Regions from separate parts of the Homo sapiens genome. Here region 2 is linked to region 1. A link means that fine-mapping ties the variant in region 1 to the expression of a gene that starts in the linked region. Tissue or cell type: esophagus mucosa. Region 1 holds a variant in brackets; the other region holds the start of a gene. All regions are shown on one strand. Distances are between the middles of the regions.

Region 1 (8,104 bases):
CTAATTAGGTAAGAGTAGTAAGGTGCTTTATGTATCTATGCACTTATATACACATGAACTCTAATCTTGCTGTTGTTTACATTTTACAGACGAAGAAAACAAGGGGCAGATACCTAAGTCAGCACTGGGAACCACATAGAAAGTAAAAGCAGAGCTGGAGCTAGATTCAGATTTTTTTTTTTTAAAGATAGAGTCTTACTCTGTTGCCCAGGCTGGAGGGCAATGGCATGATCTCAGCTCACTGCAACTTCCACCTTCTGAGCTCAAGTGATTCTCCTGACTTAGCCTCCCCAGTAGCTGGAACTGCAGCTGTGTGCCATGGTACCTGGCTAATTTTTGTATTTTTGGTAGAGATGGGGTTTCACCATGTTGCCCAGGCTGGTCTCAAACTCCTGACCTCAGGTGATCCACCTAACTCAGCCTCCCAAAGTGCTGGGATTACAGGTGTGAGCTACCTCATCCAGCCCTAGATTCAGATTTCAAGATCACTGCTCTTGACTGACTGACTGATCGACGGATTCATTGATTGGCACCACATCTTTGTAGCTACTTAAGTTTCCAGACTAATGAACATGACCTTTCCCCTGTATGTGTTCACACTGTGCCAAACCTTTTCACATTAATTGCTCATTTGAGCCCTTCTACTCTGTGGAATTGTCAGGGTAAGTGTTCTTAAGTTTATAGATAAAGAGAATCCCAAGAAGGCCAGACAGATTAAATCACTTGCTCAGACACCAGGCTGGGCTATAATAGGCCCAAGTATTCTTTTCACTCTGTCAGTCTCCCGTAGTCCACTAGAGCCCCACAGAAAATCACAATGAAGACCATACCCTACTCCCCTGCCCCTAACCCCCTTGCAATGTGTTCTGGGCAAGACCCTTCCCTGCAATATATTTGCATGGTTTGATTAATGTGTTCTGTGGAGGAAATATTCAGATCAGTGTACCTGAACCACAGACTGCTTAATCTAGCACCTAATTTAGGGCTTACCTTAATACATATATGATATATGGTTTGGCTGTGTCCCCACCTAAATCTCATCTTGAATTCCCACGTGTTGTGGGAGGGACCTGGTGGGAGGTAACTGAATCATAGAAGCAGGTCTTTACTGTGCTGTTATCGTGATAGTGAATAAGTCCCATGTGCTCTGATGGTTCTATAAGGGGGAGTTTCCCTGCACAAGCTCTCTCTTTGCCTGCTGACATCCACATAAGATGTGACTTGCTCTTCCTTCCCTTCTGCCACGATTGTGAGGCTTCTCCAGCCATGTGGAACTGTAAGTCCATTAAACCCTTTTTCTGTATAAATTACCTGGTCTCAGGTATGTCTTTCTCAGCAGCATGAAAACAGACTAATACAATATACAAGATAAAATAAGAGGCAAAAGACATGATCACCCATGCCTCCCTATCCCAGGTAACAGTCTAACTTGGAGTCTAAGTTCCATGTATAAGCACTAGCTATACACAGTTTAGCAGAATTGGCTTTGTAATCAGATCACTGGCCTTGAAATAGAAGCTTTATCATCTACTGAATGTATGACCTTACAGTACTTACTCTCTCCAAGCCTCAGTTTCCTTATCTATATAATGGGAAAGACAATCCCCTCCTGAGGCAAGTGTAACTATGAAGATTCTGTGGACAATAAACTCAAGTGCACGGTACGTGGCACGGTAAGCGCTCAATAAAAGGTAGCTGATGGCCCCATTACTTGCGGTTTGAGCTTGCAGATTCTTTTCTTTTCCTTTCTCTTTCTTTTCTTCTTCTTCTTTTTTTTTTTTTTTTTTTTTTTTTTGACAGGCTCTCACTCTCTCACGCAGGCTGGAGTGCAGTGGCGCGATCACAGCTCACTGCAGCCTCAACCGCCGGGCTGAGTGATCCTCCTAGCACAGCCTCCCAGGTAGCTGGGATTATAGACACACACCACCATGCTGCTTAATATTTCATATTTTTTTTGTAGAGAAGAGGTCTTGCCATGTTGCCCAGGCTGGTCTCAAATTCCTGAGCTCAAGCAATCTGCCCACCTCGGCCTCCCAAAGTGTGGGACTATAGGCGTAAACCACTGCCCCCGGCTGGGAAGAGATTCTTGATTAAACCTGTGTGTAGTCATGTGAGCTGGACAGGCTGAATGGGTGCTGCATGGGGTCATCCAAAATTAATAGTAAGAGGGAGACTCCAGCTCTTCCTGGGCCTGTTCTTGCCACAACTGCTTTGGACCATTCTGCAGAGAAAAACTAAACCCGGCCCTTTTGTCAATATATTACAGAGGGAAGCCAATTCCACCCCGGCCCCTCATTCTTCAACATATTTTTATGGGTGTATTTACCACTCCACACTGTCAAGGGCCACCCTAATCCTTCCTGCTGGGGCTAGATAGTATTTTTGTCCAATTTTTTCACATTCCCCAGAGCCACCCTTGTAGATCAAGAGATTGGGTTCCCAGAGGCTGCACCTCAAGCCCTGTGGCTACTAAAACCTCATCCTGTGGGGGCCTGCTGACTTCATCACTTCTAATAACCTGAGCTCATTTCCTCAATGAGGAAAATCACTGGCACTACAGCTTGGCCTTGGGACCACAATTTAAGAAGAGTCGGGGCCAGCACTTTGGGAGGCCAAGGCAGGCAGGATTGCCTGAGTCCAAGAGTGAGACCAGTCTGGGCAACATGGTGAAACCCTGTCTCTACAAAAAATAGAAAAATTAGCCAGCATAGTGGTGCACGCCTGTAGTCCCAGCTACTCAGGAGGCTGAGGTGGGAGGATTGCCTGAACCTGGGAGGCAGAGGTTGCAGTGAGCCATGATTGCACATTTGCACTCCAGCCTGGGTGACAGAATGAGACTCCATCTCAAGAAAATAAAATAAAATAAAATAAAAGTCGGGAGAAAGATGGGGCTGCCACAGCATTATTACAAAAACCTGGAATGCGGCATCGTGGGCAAGCTTCATCCATCTCCTTGAGGAGACTCCTCTCTGACAGCTACAGGTAATTTGAAAGCTTTTATGAAGCCTTGGCTGGAAAACCAATGAAGCTTCCAAACTCAGGCAATGCAACAGAAGCGTCTAAACAGTTAGTCATAAAACATTCTTTCCTAATCCACAGAAGACATTAACATTTATTTTTCCAATTACCAATGAATAATCCTCAAGGGCTTTTCCCTAAAACTGACAACACAAAAATAATTACTCTCTTAGTAATGAAGTGGGTATCCAAGGGAGATGGTTGGGTTGATGAATGATGATCATTTTAAAGCTCCTTCATTTCTGCATGGTTTTTGCCGGATTAATCGTCATTGAAGGAACACTGAGTTTATTTGTTGTTGGCAACAAAATGGGAAATTCAGCTCTTGAAGGGTTTCTGCCTTCAGGCTCTGGCCTCATTAGAAACATGGCTTTCTCTGTTTCATCATATGGT[T/C]GAGTCATTCTTCATCTCAGGTGGTGAAAGGGTGAGCGGTACTTAAGCAACAGCAGTTTCTGTTCCTAAGGTTAAATGTGCAACCTACTTTCTCTGTACAATATCCCTAAGAAGTATCGTTAGTGTTTCTTCCAAATAAAAAGCGTAAGTTAAGGAGCAGTATCTTGGATCAAATGACTCTCATGATAAGACACGAGGAAAAAGAGCAACTGCCTTCCTTCTAAAAGTTATATTTTAAAGATTTTACATTTCCAGCCCAAATAAAATGCAATAGCTTTGTTTCCTTGCACAGCTATGACACAATAAAGAATGCACAAAGTGTTTTGTTAAGGAACAGGGCATCATTCTTACTCTTCCCGCCTTCATTTCTTCCTGGAGATAAGACGACAAAATATGGACTTTCCTCCCATCCATTGCTCTGTATTGCATGGCAGTATTCACATGTCTGTCTTAATTTGTTTGTCTGATAGCCTAAACAAGATGATGGAAGCATAAGGGAGTGGGTTAGGGCATTGGCAATTGAAGTTGACGTGATGCTGAACGGGTTGGAGGCAAAGTTACACCAAGGGCTTGTAAGCATGAGAACCCACAGGCGAAGCAACCCAACATGGAGTGCAGGGAGGAAGAAGAGAGCTGGAACCCACCTCCTGAACAAGCCAGTGTGTGCCTGTGAGCGGGTGGGGATGGGCCCGTGCAAGGCTCGCTGCCAGGCAGGCTGTTACTTGCTGCTGGGGCGGTGTCCTGGGGAGAAGTGATCATCTATGGAAGGAATTCAGCAGAGTGGATGATGTGGGAATGAAGGAGACCAGGAAATCCGATCAAGGTGAAGGCTGAGCCTGAGGATGGGAGGCAGAGCTTGACCCTGGCTATTCCTGGGACACCCGAGCCCTGGCTCCCTGGGTGGCTGCAGTCTCCTGTGGGCCTGGGCTCCAAGGCTCTGGGTCCTGGCTCTTCACCTGTTCGAGGTATGGACACTTTGAGACCCCAATGTGGCATGGACCCTCCCACACATGCTCATGCCTGTCTGCTACTCTCTGGCTCTCTTCATTCCAGCATCCTGTCTTGGGATCACCATCTCTCTCTGTTGCTCTATGTGTGGCTCACCTCAATCTGTCTCTCCTTTCTAAGTTCCATCTCCTACACAGTTTCAGAGATTATGAGGACCTCACTAAGTCCACATGAACTATAATTTTAAGACATCCTAGATTAAAGATTTAAGTAGCGAGTTTCCCAGCTCTCAAATAAGCACAGATGTTTCAGATAGAAAATAAGATTAGGAGAAAAAAAAACTATGCATTTTTTTTAAATCAGTTTGAGAGGTTTTGGTTAATTCTCTCATTACCAATTACAGAAAGAGGTGATTCTCTATGGCTCTGGGGTATTCCGTGAGGATGAAACACTATAGATTACACATACTGATTCCCCATGTTGAGATTACAGCCAAAAAGAGCAAGGTGCTACCCTAAGTGCTGTAGAAGGATATTTAAGAAAAGACAAATAAGCTTATTTGTCCCTTATCCATGAGCTATCAGAAAGGAGGTCTGAGTTAGAAATGTTCCCTTTTAAAAATCTAATCAACACCAAAGGAGTAATTTTGTGCTACTAATAACAGAAAACCAAATAGTAAATCACTCACCCTCAAGCATCTTGTGACCCGGAGGGTGTGTTGGGTTACACTTTATGTGAATCATTTAGCGACCTGAATAGAATCAATCTGGTAGCCTCAGATATTCCCTGACTTCAATTTCTATTTTTGGTAACCACTGGGTGGGCCGTGATACTGCAAGTAAGTTCACAAAACTGCTTCTAGAGATTAACTGGGGAATTTCAAAATTGCCAGTGATGATGCACCACTCATATTATGTAGATACATATTTTAAACAGAAAGATTCGAGGCAAGAATCTTTGCTTGTCTTCTCTGCCTCACTCTACTGGGTAATTTTGCTGTAAACTCCCAGGACAGTCCATCTCTCCATCTCTCTTTCATGAGTCTTTTCACCCCAGGCAACATTCGCTTCACGTTACCAACAACGAGGAAAAGAAAAGGTGGCTTTTGTGAAATTAAATTCCTTCCACAGAACAACCACTTCCAGGCATGAAATCTCTTTAAAGGAAACTTCCGACCCTATGCATTTGAAAATGATTAATCAATCAGAGTCTAAATATAAGAAAATGTCTATTAATGACAAAAATGATTCAAGTCCTATTGAAAGAGACCAAGACAACTGACCATTGTCAAGACTTGTATAGGGTCTAAGGTTTTACATTACTGTAAGCTAACAAATTAGCCTGTCAGTTTCATAGATGCTGGTAGAAGATGCTACATTCCTGAGTCAGAGAGGAAGGACAGTTACAGCAATAGCAGTGGCTAGAGTAGTGGCACTTCTCGAGCCCCAGTTCTCCTAGGGTGTTGCAAAGAAGGACAGATGACGCCCGTGCATGCAGTGGGTCGCATCCCAGGAAAGGGGCTCGACACTTAGGGAACCCATATCTTTTATAATAGACAGCTTTGCTCTGCATGGAGACACTATCTCTAACTTCCAAGACTGTTTGCTATACATATAAACGTTCTTGAAAAAAGGGTCTGGAACAAAGGCAGTCTCACTCACAAGACATGCAGAAACATGAGAACCATGTAGAAATGTCTCCTAACAACTTGAACACTGAATTACAATTAAGTCTATACAGCGCCTATGTTTAGAATGCACTCTTCTTTACCCCCTGTGCTTGCTGGAACTAATTACCTCCTAGAATCCACTGGAACAAGGTGAGCCCAAAGAAGCCCACCCCGCTAGTTTCATTTACACCCCACCAAGGAGACTGAGCATGAAGAAAACACACACCAGACACTAATCTGCCCTTATTTATCCAATTGACTCAATAAAACAACAGAAAAGCAGGTTTCTCAAGGACTTCGTTTGTAGCTGTTCTAGTATCAGTCTTATTGAAATGTCTGCTAATGTGTTGTGATGGGAACACCCACAGAGACACGGGAGGCAGAGAACAATCCAGTCTTAAAAGAACAATCCATCCCCAGGCAAGATGTTCCAGTCAGCAAGAGAGAACTGGTTGGCCTTCATGGCCGCACAAGAAGGCTATTAGTGAAGCATTTCCAGCATTTGTTTCTGAGTGGGGTTGGGTGGGAACTCCATGAAGCCTGCACTGTTCTTTCTCACTCATAGAAGACTGAGAAGCCACTCCATTTTCACAGGCAAATTACAAACACACAGTGGGTTGTACCCCAAGCCCTCAAGGAAATGAGACTAGTTCTGAGGAATAATTCTCCAGGACTATTTGGGTTAAAATTAATTCAAGCAAAGAGAAACCAGTAGGGGAAAATAGTGGTATGCTTGTGTCCAATTTGAAAATGGCTTTCAGAAAGTTCCAACTACCCGATAGGAGTTTTGTTTTCTTAGACAACAGACAAGGGTCCCTGCCACCCACAGCACTTCTCTCTTAGGCTATGCAGCAGCACTGAAGCGTGCTGACTCCTTGACTCTGAGCACCCAAAGACAAGAGTCAAAGGAAGTAGATAGGGGCCATAGAGGGACAGATATGACTCATGACTACACAGGCTCACTCTCAAAGTGGCTAGATTCCAGGAAAGGTTCCCAGGAAGCAGAGGGAAGCCCCAGAACCTTTCACTCAGAGGCAAAAATAGGGTGGCTGAGTAGGGATGGGGATGTGTCCAGTAGCTGTGGACCTGCCACTCTCTTGCTAAACAGCAGTCATGTCAAAAACAGCTTAGGTTTCCAAAAGCTGATTTTGCACAGCACACAATCTTTTATGGAGACTTTAGGTGATTGTCTTAGGCTGTTTGTGTTACTATAAAGAAGTACTTGAGGGCAGGCAATTTATACAGAAAAGAGGTTTATTTGGCTCGTGCTTCTGCAGACTGTATAGGAAGCATGGCACCAGCATCTTCTTTTGGTGAGGACCTCAGAAGTTTCCAATCACGGCAGAAGGAGAGCCGGCTTGTTACATGGCAAGAGAGGACGTAAGACAGAGAGGGGAGGAGGTGCCAGGCTCTTTTTAACAACCAGATCTAGAGGGAACTAAGAGTAAGTACTCACTCAATCCCAGGAGAATGGCACCAAGCCATTCATGAGGGGTCTGCCCCCATGACCCAAACACCTCTCACCTCCAACACTGGAGATCAAATTTCAAAATGGGATTTGGAGAGGACAAATATCCAAACTATGTCAGTGATAAATAAGTAAAAACCTGTTTAATTCCTGTGTTTCAGGAATTGAAAATCACCTTGTCCTGAGCTGCTCTTTCTCAGGAAACTGATGGCTGGATACTCCTTGCTCAGCTGCTAAGCCCAAGTCCAGGAGCTTTATGTTATGGGGAAAAGGCAAGAGGACTCTGGATAAGGAGGGCCAGCATCACAGGGCCTGGCTGCACTGCAGATGGGGAGCAGGGAGTCCCTCAGTTCCCAGGAGTGAGGAAGAGCCCCACAGGTGGCTGGGATCTCCTCCATCCACAAGGCCTCCTCCCCTACCCTGCCAGCTCAGGGACCTGGCTCACTTTAAATGTGGCTTCTGGGGTTCACTCTTGTGAGTGGGACTAAGAGTAATTCCCTAAGAGTGGCAAGAAAGTCTAATGGTTATGGGACTTTGGAGCCAAATAGGTTTGGGTTTGAATCTCAGTGTTGTAGCTGTGTGGACTTAGGTAAGCTGCTAAGCCTGAG
Region 2 (8,104 bases), 110 kb after region 1:
GCAGAGGCATCATGGTCAAGGAGTGGCAGGTGCATACCAAGACTGGGCGTGCGAGTGGACACAGTGTCCTTTACCAGGTGGGACTGTACCAAGGATGGGAAGCAAAAGGGAAGAAACCCAGGCCAGGGCAGTCTCCTAACTGCATTTCAGTTCATGACTCTGGGAAGTAACATTTTGAATTCAAAATGCAAACCTAGACTTCAAGGTCATTATGAAGATGTAGCTGTCAAGATCAGTGGACAGAAGAAATTTTATACAAATGTTGTTAGTTTAACTCATAAGTTTTAAACATTTAGACAGATGTCTTGTAGACCTACATTTGCTCTCTTGCACGGTACAGACAGGCCTCATGGGTATACAGTGGACTCAGATTCCAGACTGGGTTCATCCTCAACCCCAACCCACCCACCAGCTACATGAGCTTGAAGCAGCCTTTTAATCCTCTCTGAGTCTTCACTTCTTTATTTACATTTAAACAAGGATAAAAAGAACATCTTCTTTATAGGGTTGTTATGAAGACTAAATGAATTAGCCCAAAGTACCTAGAAGAGCACCTAGTCACCTAGTAGGTAGGTAATAAATTCCCCTATGACATTATTCTCATACAAAACTGATTAGTCACTGCACACTTCCAGAAAAAAACACAGACAGAAAGTGGTTCTGTGTATTTCTTCTTTCCTCTTCCTCTTTCTAAATACATCACTTTACACTGCTCCAAAAGATTATTTTCTATTCTGAAAAGGTCAAGTCATCTGATTCCTAACCTGCTTGGGTCAAGTTCTTCTGAAATTAAAGATGTGTTCATATTCTACCCCAACTCAGCAGATAACTCAAGCCTTTGGCAGGTTTGAGGTTTGAAGGCTGGGAAATTGGCTGTGTCACTTTCATGGGCTAAACATTTGAAAGAATTACCACTTTTAAGTATAAAAAGGACATTTCCTAATCTTCGTATGCATGAAGTTCGGAGCTGTAAGCTAGGGTGCGTCCTTCTTGATTCACAAACCAGAGGCTGAAATACTTGAAGCTATCAACAAAGAAAGGTTACTCAACAAGAGAACCCAATGCTAAAAATAGAGCACTATCAGCAGAGAAATAGATGCAAAGAGACAAGCCTTTATTTGGCTACTTATTTGCCCATGTTTCTTTATTATTAAATGGAGGTACACCACCAGCATAGTGATTACAAATTGCCAACAACCTAATTATTTCTCTTCCTTCAGCCTACAATGACTGAACAAACAACTTGAAGAAAAATACTTGCCACGTTAATGACATGCAGGCAGCATATAGAGCATCTTGAATTATTTCACCACAAAAACCTCCCTTTCAAATGTCTAGCTGTTTGCTACGGGTTGAAGATTTAAAACCCAAGAAGAAAAGTACAATACAAGGAAAAGATTCAAGCTCATGTTTACCCTTTAAAATATATACCTAACCTACATGTTCCACACAGGAAACAATCAAACCTCCATTTTTTCTAATTATTCTGAAGTATTTTTTAAATATATTGTTTATCAGGCTACTCAGTGGGTAGAGCTCTTTCTAGCTTCCCAATCTAAGCCTAATTAGTCTCCCACAAAAAGAACCATGCTGGTGCACTGTTAATTTCAACAATGCTTTTTCTATTAATTCGAATCTTTTCCAAATCCCAAATGGAGAAAAAAAAAACAGTATGAAATAAATGAAAATTAACTGGATTCTACAGAGGCAGGACTGAGCACATCCACTCATCCAACAGTAATCCCATCTACATCAAATAATGTTTCTTTACAGAGTTTTGCCAACTTCCTATAAAAATCTCATGAATACTTCTTATGTTTGCCAGTTTTTATTTATGCAATTAAATTAGCTTTTTGTAAGAGCTGGACTGGAGAAACAACACATTTTTACAACCCCATTAGTCATACAGTCAAGCTTCATTATATTATAATCATTTATCAGTAGTCAGTAACGAGTATGCTGTTTTCTTGTGCAATGAGGGTGTTTAAGAAAACGTGTCTTCACAACAGGCCATGAAATGTGTCAAATACAGAACACCCGACATTAGTGGTAAAGCCTGTGAGTTCATCTGGTTGTCATCTCTGTTGAAGAGCACAACAGTTGAATGAACACAAACCTAGCTTTAGCTTAGAAGCCACATTCTTAATTATTAACCCCTTCATGCTTCCACCCTTTCCAAACTCCACTCCCTTAAGAGGAGGTCACTTCATTTAGAATTAATAACTGTTATTCAAGATGCTCATGAGAGATCATTTTGGCTTCAGTCGTTTTGCTGCAGTTTATTCTACATATTTCTCCCTAAATCAAATGTATACACGTCCCTGAGACTTGTGTATGACCTTAGTCCCTGGACCTTGGGAAGTCACGATGTCGTGGAGGAGAGGGGAGCTGGGAGCCTGAAGCTGACAGATCCCGGGATCCCGCAGGCCCCCCGCAGGGCTCCCGCCCTTCCACCGAGGCACCCGTCGAGGTTGCCCCAGATGCTCATTCTGCGCCCATCAATGGGAGTAACTGAGCTTAGAGAGGAAAAACTACGGCTTCAACAAAGCACAACGTGTGCAGCTCTGATAATGCAGGGCGGAATTATGGAGACACCGTCGGGGCTGGCTGGAAAGCGGAAAGCGTTCCATCTCAGGATTTTCACGGGGAATTTCAAGAACCAAGGGGGCCTCTGAGATCCCCAGAACCTCTCCTTTCCACGAGGCAGCTTCCTTCCTTCCCTGCTCGTTCTCCACAAAAATCAGGGCTGCCCGGATCCCAGCAGTGAGCGCTGCTCTCTTTGGCTGCTGTATCCCCAACCGCTGCTGAGGCGCAGCTGGAGTGAGCCCCTCCGAGCCCCGCTTTGCGCAGCTGCAGCTGGAGCCCAGAGGCGCCCGGAGCTCGGAGAAAAGCACTGTGCTCCGCGGGACCCAACCCTCCCCACGGCCACCAAGGGGGCCCGCAGATCCCCGGGCACCGGCAGCCGAACCCAGACAGGGGCGTCCCAACCGCTGAGCCCGACGCCAGAGGGCACCGCGGGGGAGAGAAGGCGCCGCGCCTCGCTCCTGGCACTTGGTCCCCGGGAGTCAGGGACATGCGCGCCCCGGAGCTGGAGCCCGGGAAAATTACTGCGCGGGCACAGAGGAGCTAGAGAGGTCCCCGACCCTCCCAGCCCCGCGCCCAGGTACCTCGCAGCCGTAGAGCTGACCCAGCTGCTCCACGATCCATTCCTCCAGCACCAGCCGCTTCCGAAGCTCCTTACGATCGTATTTCACTGTCACTTTTCCCTGCTGGTGTCGCCGCTGCTGTTGCTGCTGAACCTGCCCTGCAGCGGCCGCCGTGGCCACGGGCGCCGAGTCCTCCCGGGAGGAGCCTGAGCCGCTGCTGGAGCCGGGGCTGCCACCGGCGCCACCCCGGGGGCTTTGGAAGAAAACCCGTGCGCCGCCGCCGCTGGCCCCGCCGGCCGTCTCGCTGCTGCCCGTCGCCACCGACATGTCCCCGCGCGCCCGAGCCTCAGTGCGGCCCGGAGGAGGGGCGGGCGGAGCGCGCCCGGCGCCGCTACCACCTCCGGCCCGGCAGCCGCATGCGAAGGGCTCCCCGGCACCTGCTCTGCGCCGCGCGCGCCCAGCCGCCCGGCTGCTCTGGGAGGGCGGGAGGAGCCGCGGCGAGAGGGAGGAGGGCGGGGAGGACGACGGGGCGGGGACCGCAGCCTTAAAGAAGCCGCCGAGGACCCTCTCGGTCCAGCCCCCAGAGGCGGGATCTGGCGCCTGCGGCAGAGAGGGCCCGGGGCGTGGGAGTCTCCGCGGGGCGGGAAATGTGTGCGCCTAGACACGGGAGGTCGCCGATGTGTAGACTCCGGAAGGACGGGCGTGGGGCGGGGTGCCAGGGGATGCTCCTGCGCGGGTGTCCGTGGCCTCTAGTCTCGGAGACAGGGACTCACGCTTCTCCCGCAATCCCGGAGCGCAGGAAACGCGCCGCCTCTCGGGGCCTCCACCTGGCGCGGCCCCGGGCAGGACCCGCAGCGAAGGGGACACAGGAAAGGACCGCGCCGCAGGCTCCCCCAGGAGGTTTTCCTAGCCCCACCGTCTCCTCTGTTGGCTGGGTAGCGTCCCCTCCCCTCCAGCCCCGCCCCACGGCTCCAAACACACATTCCTATTCATGCCACGATGGATGCCACTTCCTCTCTGGATTGTGAGAAACATCGAAGAGGCGATGTTTGTGCAATAAGGCAGTCACGGCGCTTGAGAAATTATTTCCAGACCAATGTTTTCTTTCCTTACTAAGCGTCTGCTTAATCATGGGCACAGCATTCGGATATCTTCGTATCCAAAGGGCAGAAAGCGTGACGGCGCTCAGGCAAGGCGTCTGGGGGCATCCAGACAGTAAACATTTCTCTAAGAGGGTCGGCGACAGGGTCCTGGTTTCACATTTCTAGTGTTGCGTCCCGTGCACTGCCAGCTTTCTCTCCATCCCATTCCAAACAGCCCCTTCCACCCAGGAGGGCAACAGCACTGCCTGACTCTACTGCAAAACATCACAGCCTAGTAGTTACACATGAAGGAGCTTCTCAGAAGGGTTAGGACAATAAGGTGGGGAGGGAAGTTGTAAACAGAAAACTGCATGTGTAAAATTAGGGAGACACTAACATATTCTTCTTGTACACAACAATACATTCCTGTTCAGGAACTGATAGAAACCACAGAGACGTCCGAATGAATACAAGTAAGCGGCTTTTAGTAACGGTTTTGTTTTGTTTTGTTTTTTGAGACGGAGTCTCTCTGTTGCCCAGGCTGGGGAGCAGTGGCGAGATCTCGGCTCACTGCAACCTCTGACTTCGGGGTTCAAGCGATTCTCCTGCCTCACCCTCCTGAAGAGCTGGGATTACAGGCTTTCGCCACCACACCAAGCTAATTTTTGTATTTTTAGTAGAGACAGGGTTTCACCATGTTGGTCATTCTGGTCTCGAACTCCTGACCTCATGATCCGCCCGCCTGGGCCTCCCAAAGTGCTGGGATTACAGGTGTGAGCCACCGCGCCTGGCCATGAACTTTTTTTGTTTGTTTGTTGTTGTTGTTGTTTTTAAATAAAAGAGCCCTAAAGGTTACTGGCAGCTACTCAAAGAAGTTTCTCAGAGATAAAATAGATACCAAGTCAAATTCCTCGGAACACTTTCCTATGATGGAGAAGATCCTGTGTGGGGTTCTAGACTGACACTACAAAGACAAAATAAAAGTAACCAGCAGGTTTCTCCTGGCGCTTCAGGCTCTGCGATCCACCAGCGCCCAGCTCTGCTCTACCCAGGCTTAGGATCCATTGCCTTTGTACCCTCAGTCTGGGGTTTTCCAGTGAGAGCCTGAATAGGGATTTTCCCAAAGTGTTCCATGCCTGCGGCTCTTCACAGGGACATGTCAAGCCTCACAATGTGAAGGGGAAGGATCTGCGGAGATTGAAATAGGGTGGCTGGTGTGGGGCCCTGGACTCCTGCCATAATTACAAAGGGGTCAAAGCTGAACGATCTCTGCCCCGCTAGAAGAGGCCAGCTGCCCTTTAGAAGATGGGTTTTGCACCGAGCCTATCAGGGACAAGGGAGATGAATTACCTTGATTGCCCCTAGAGACCGATGACCAGTCTCTGCACCACCTCTGCCCCTCTGCCTTTAGGGTGGGTCACTGTAAACCCCGAACACACAGCCAAGAGAGTGACCACCTCAAAATGGAACTCTGTCTGCAAGGAGGAAGGGAAAGGAGGGCAGGAACCAGCCCCAGCATCTCCCACACAGAATCAGCTTATATGGCTCCAGACATCTGGCCAAGTCCGCTAGCACCAGCTTTGACCAACTGCACTAATCAGGAGAATGCAAATCAGAACGAAAACAGCTTAAATGTTATTAACAAAGGAGAAACTACATAAAATCTCTACCTCATTCTGGCCCTGGGACCTGACAATACCTATTGTGCCATCCCACAGTTTGGCAAAGTCTGGGGAATTCCAACTCCTTTCTTTAAGTCTTTGGACAACGAAATCAGTCATTCAAGGATAACGTCAAATAATTTTAAAAAATTCACTAAGTTCTTTCTGAGAAATTCTGATGTCAATTTTTTTCTCACAGCATAAGATGCTTTTTCCTTTATGCTTAAAACTCAATTTTCCCTTACAACTCCAAAATGACAGATACTAAAAGACATGGGTTTTAAGCATCTTGACTCACAGAAGAAAATCCAGGAAATAGTCTCTTTCCACAGGTACGCTGGCCTTCAGATGTTCAAGTGAGTCACCTTGACTGGCAAATAGAATTGAACCAGGGTTCCTCTTTCTTTAAATCCATTTGCTCCACCCAGTACGTAATTTATATTCAAAGTGAAGTCCATATCATCTCCTCTACCCCCAGACACACACACTTCATTCCAGGTTTGAATAATCAAAACTTAATGGCCTCATTTTGACAGATAGAAATACTGCTTTTGCAGATTTCAAATATTGAAGCCAAAATATTTAGGAATAAAGGAATTTTTCCTAGTCCAGAGACCCTTTACATAGCTGACTATTTAAATTCGGCAAAACCAGTGGTATTTCTCATCTACAAAACCAATAATATATACATTTATTCAAGGAAAACATTTTTATTTCTAGCCTATTTAGTCAAGTGTTTTTAGGTGCTGGTTAATCTAAGACAGTGAATAGCTTTCAGTGAATTGAATGGTCCGGAATCAACTTTTACCTGAAGGCAATTACTCCCTGCTATGAGAGGGCAGCCTAAGGATGTTTCATTTGAATCTTTTTCTTCGTAGTTTTGTGTTTTCTTAGCTTGGTTATGTTTTACTTGCTTCCCAAATTGGACAAAGTTTTTTGTTTGTTTGTTTAGGAATTATATAGGTCCTTTATCTCTGAATATGATCTTTATGCCCAAAGGTTGTTAGACAGGATGGATGACTTAATCAGGAGTCCTGGAACTTTTGTCACCCCCCAGGAAAATAATTAAATACACATGTTTATACTCAGATGCAAATTTCCTTAAACGGCACAATAATTATGCAACACCTGGTAATCTACTTTGACAATGTTATAATTGCATCCTGGAGACCCACAAACCTGAACATAATCTTCTTATCTTGAGTAATAAATGTCAAATGATAAGATGCCTATATCCGAATCCTCTCCAAGATTTGATGAAGCAAAAAGACAAATTAAAAATTATTTTCAGTCTGGTTTTCATTATAAATGTTGAAGAAACTTAATCTGTCTTTCAGGATTCCATTGGTTACCCACAGCATTTTCCATTTTCATTCCAATATTTCATTGTTCTTTACAGAGTGATAACAGCACAGCTGTTGACAGTATATCAGTGAAGTTTTTCTTTTGGCTACTGTTTCACTCTCCACTTTTTCTCCTTCTAATTCTGGACCTTTGATTGTATCAGGCTGGGATCAATTTAGGATCGTAATTCCAAAATAATTTGGCCGTTGCTTGCATTAAAAAAAAAAAAAGCAACAGCAATCATTGTTGCAAGTCTAAAATTTTGTCTCAAAAACTAACGTAAGTTCTCACCTCACTGTTCAGACATGATGAAAAATGGGTGAAAAAAAAACCATAGCTTTGTCCATCCCTTTAAACAAAAATTACATACCTCTGCCCATTTCAGTAAGCCTAACATGTGGGGTATATTGTCTCCTTCTGAAAAACTAGGTTCAAATTTGTTTCTAGAGGAGCAAATTATCCTCCCTTCTAGCCAATGGCCTCTTGTGCTCCTCGCTTTTACCACCAAACATTCTGGAGGAAGTGTCCCTTCCCCCACGTCTCTAGGTCTTCCCATCTCATCGTGGAGCCCTGCGCCCTCACTGAGGTCACCAGCCAGCTCTGTGTTGCTCAAGCACAGGTGCGCGTTTCAGCGCTTATATAACTTGACCTTCTGCCACATTTAACAATCTTGAACCTTTCCTCACTATTCAAACTCTCTCCTGTCTTGGCTCCAGGTACCAACACCCTCCTGATTTTCCTCCTACCTCTTTATCTATTGCATTACAGTGAGTGTTTTTTGTGGGCTCTTTTTCCTACACCCCTGCCCTCAAGGTAGGTGGTTCCCAAGTTCTGCCCTGGGCTCTTTCCTTACTCATTCACAGCCTCCCCA

Evidence for each region. PIP is the estimated chance that this variant, and not a neighbour inherited with it, causes the effect.
Region 2: it holds the start of PPP1R14C, and the variant in region 1 is fine-mapped to the expression of PPP1R14C in esophagus mucosa (GTEx, PIP above 0.99).

Annotation. Positions count from the first base shown.
Region 1 is chr6:150,252,044-150,260,147 of GRCh38, reverse strand. No RefSeq gene overlaps it. Among named protein-coding and RNA genes, the nearest start is that of IYD, 110 kb to the left of the region's middle. The variant T/C (reference allele first, on the strand shown) is at 3,412.
Region 2 is chr6:150,138,562-150,146,665 of GRCh38, reverse strand. It overlaps PPP1R14C (protein phosphatase 1 regulatory inhibitor subunit 14C), which reads right to left and starts at 3,622. Exons shown (of 4, transcript NM_030949.3): 1 at 3,168-3,622. The coding sequence starts at 3,473.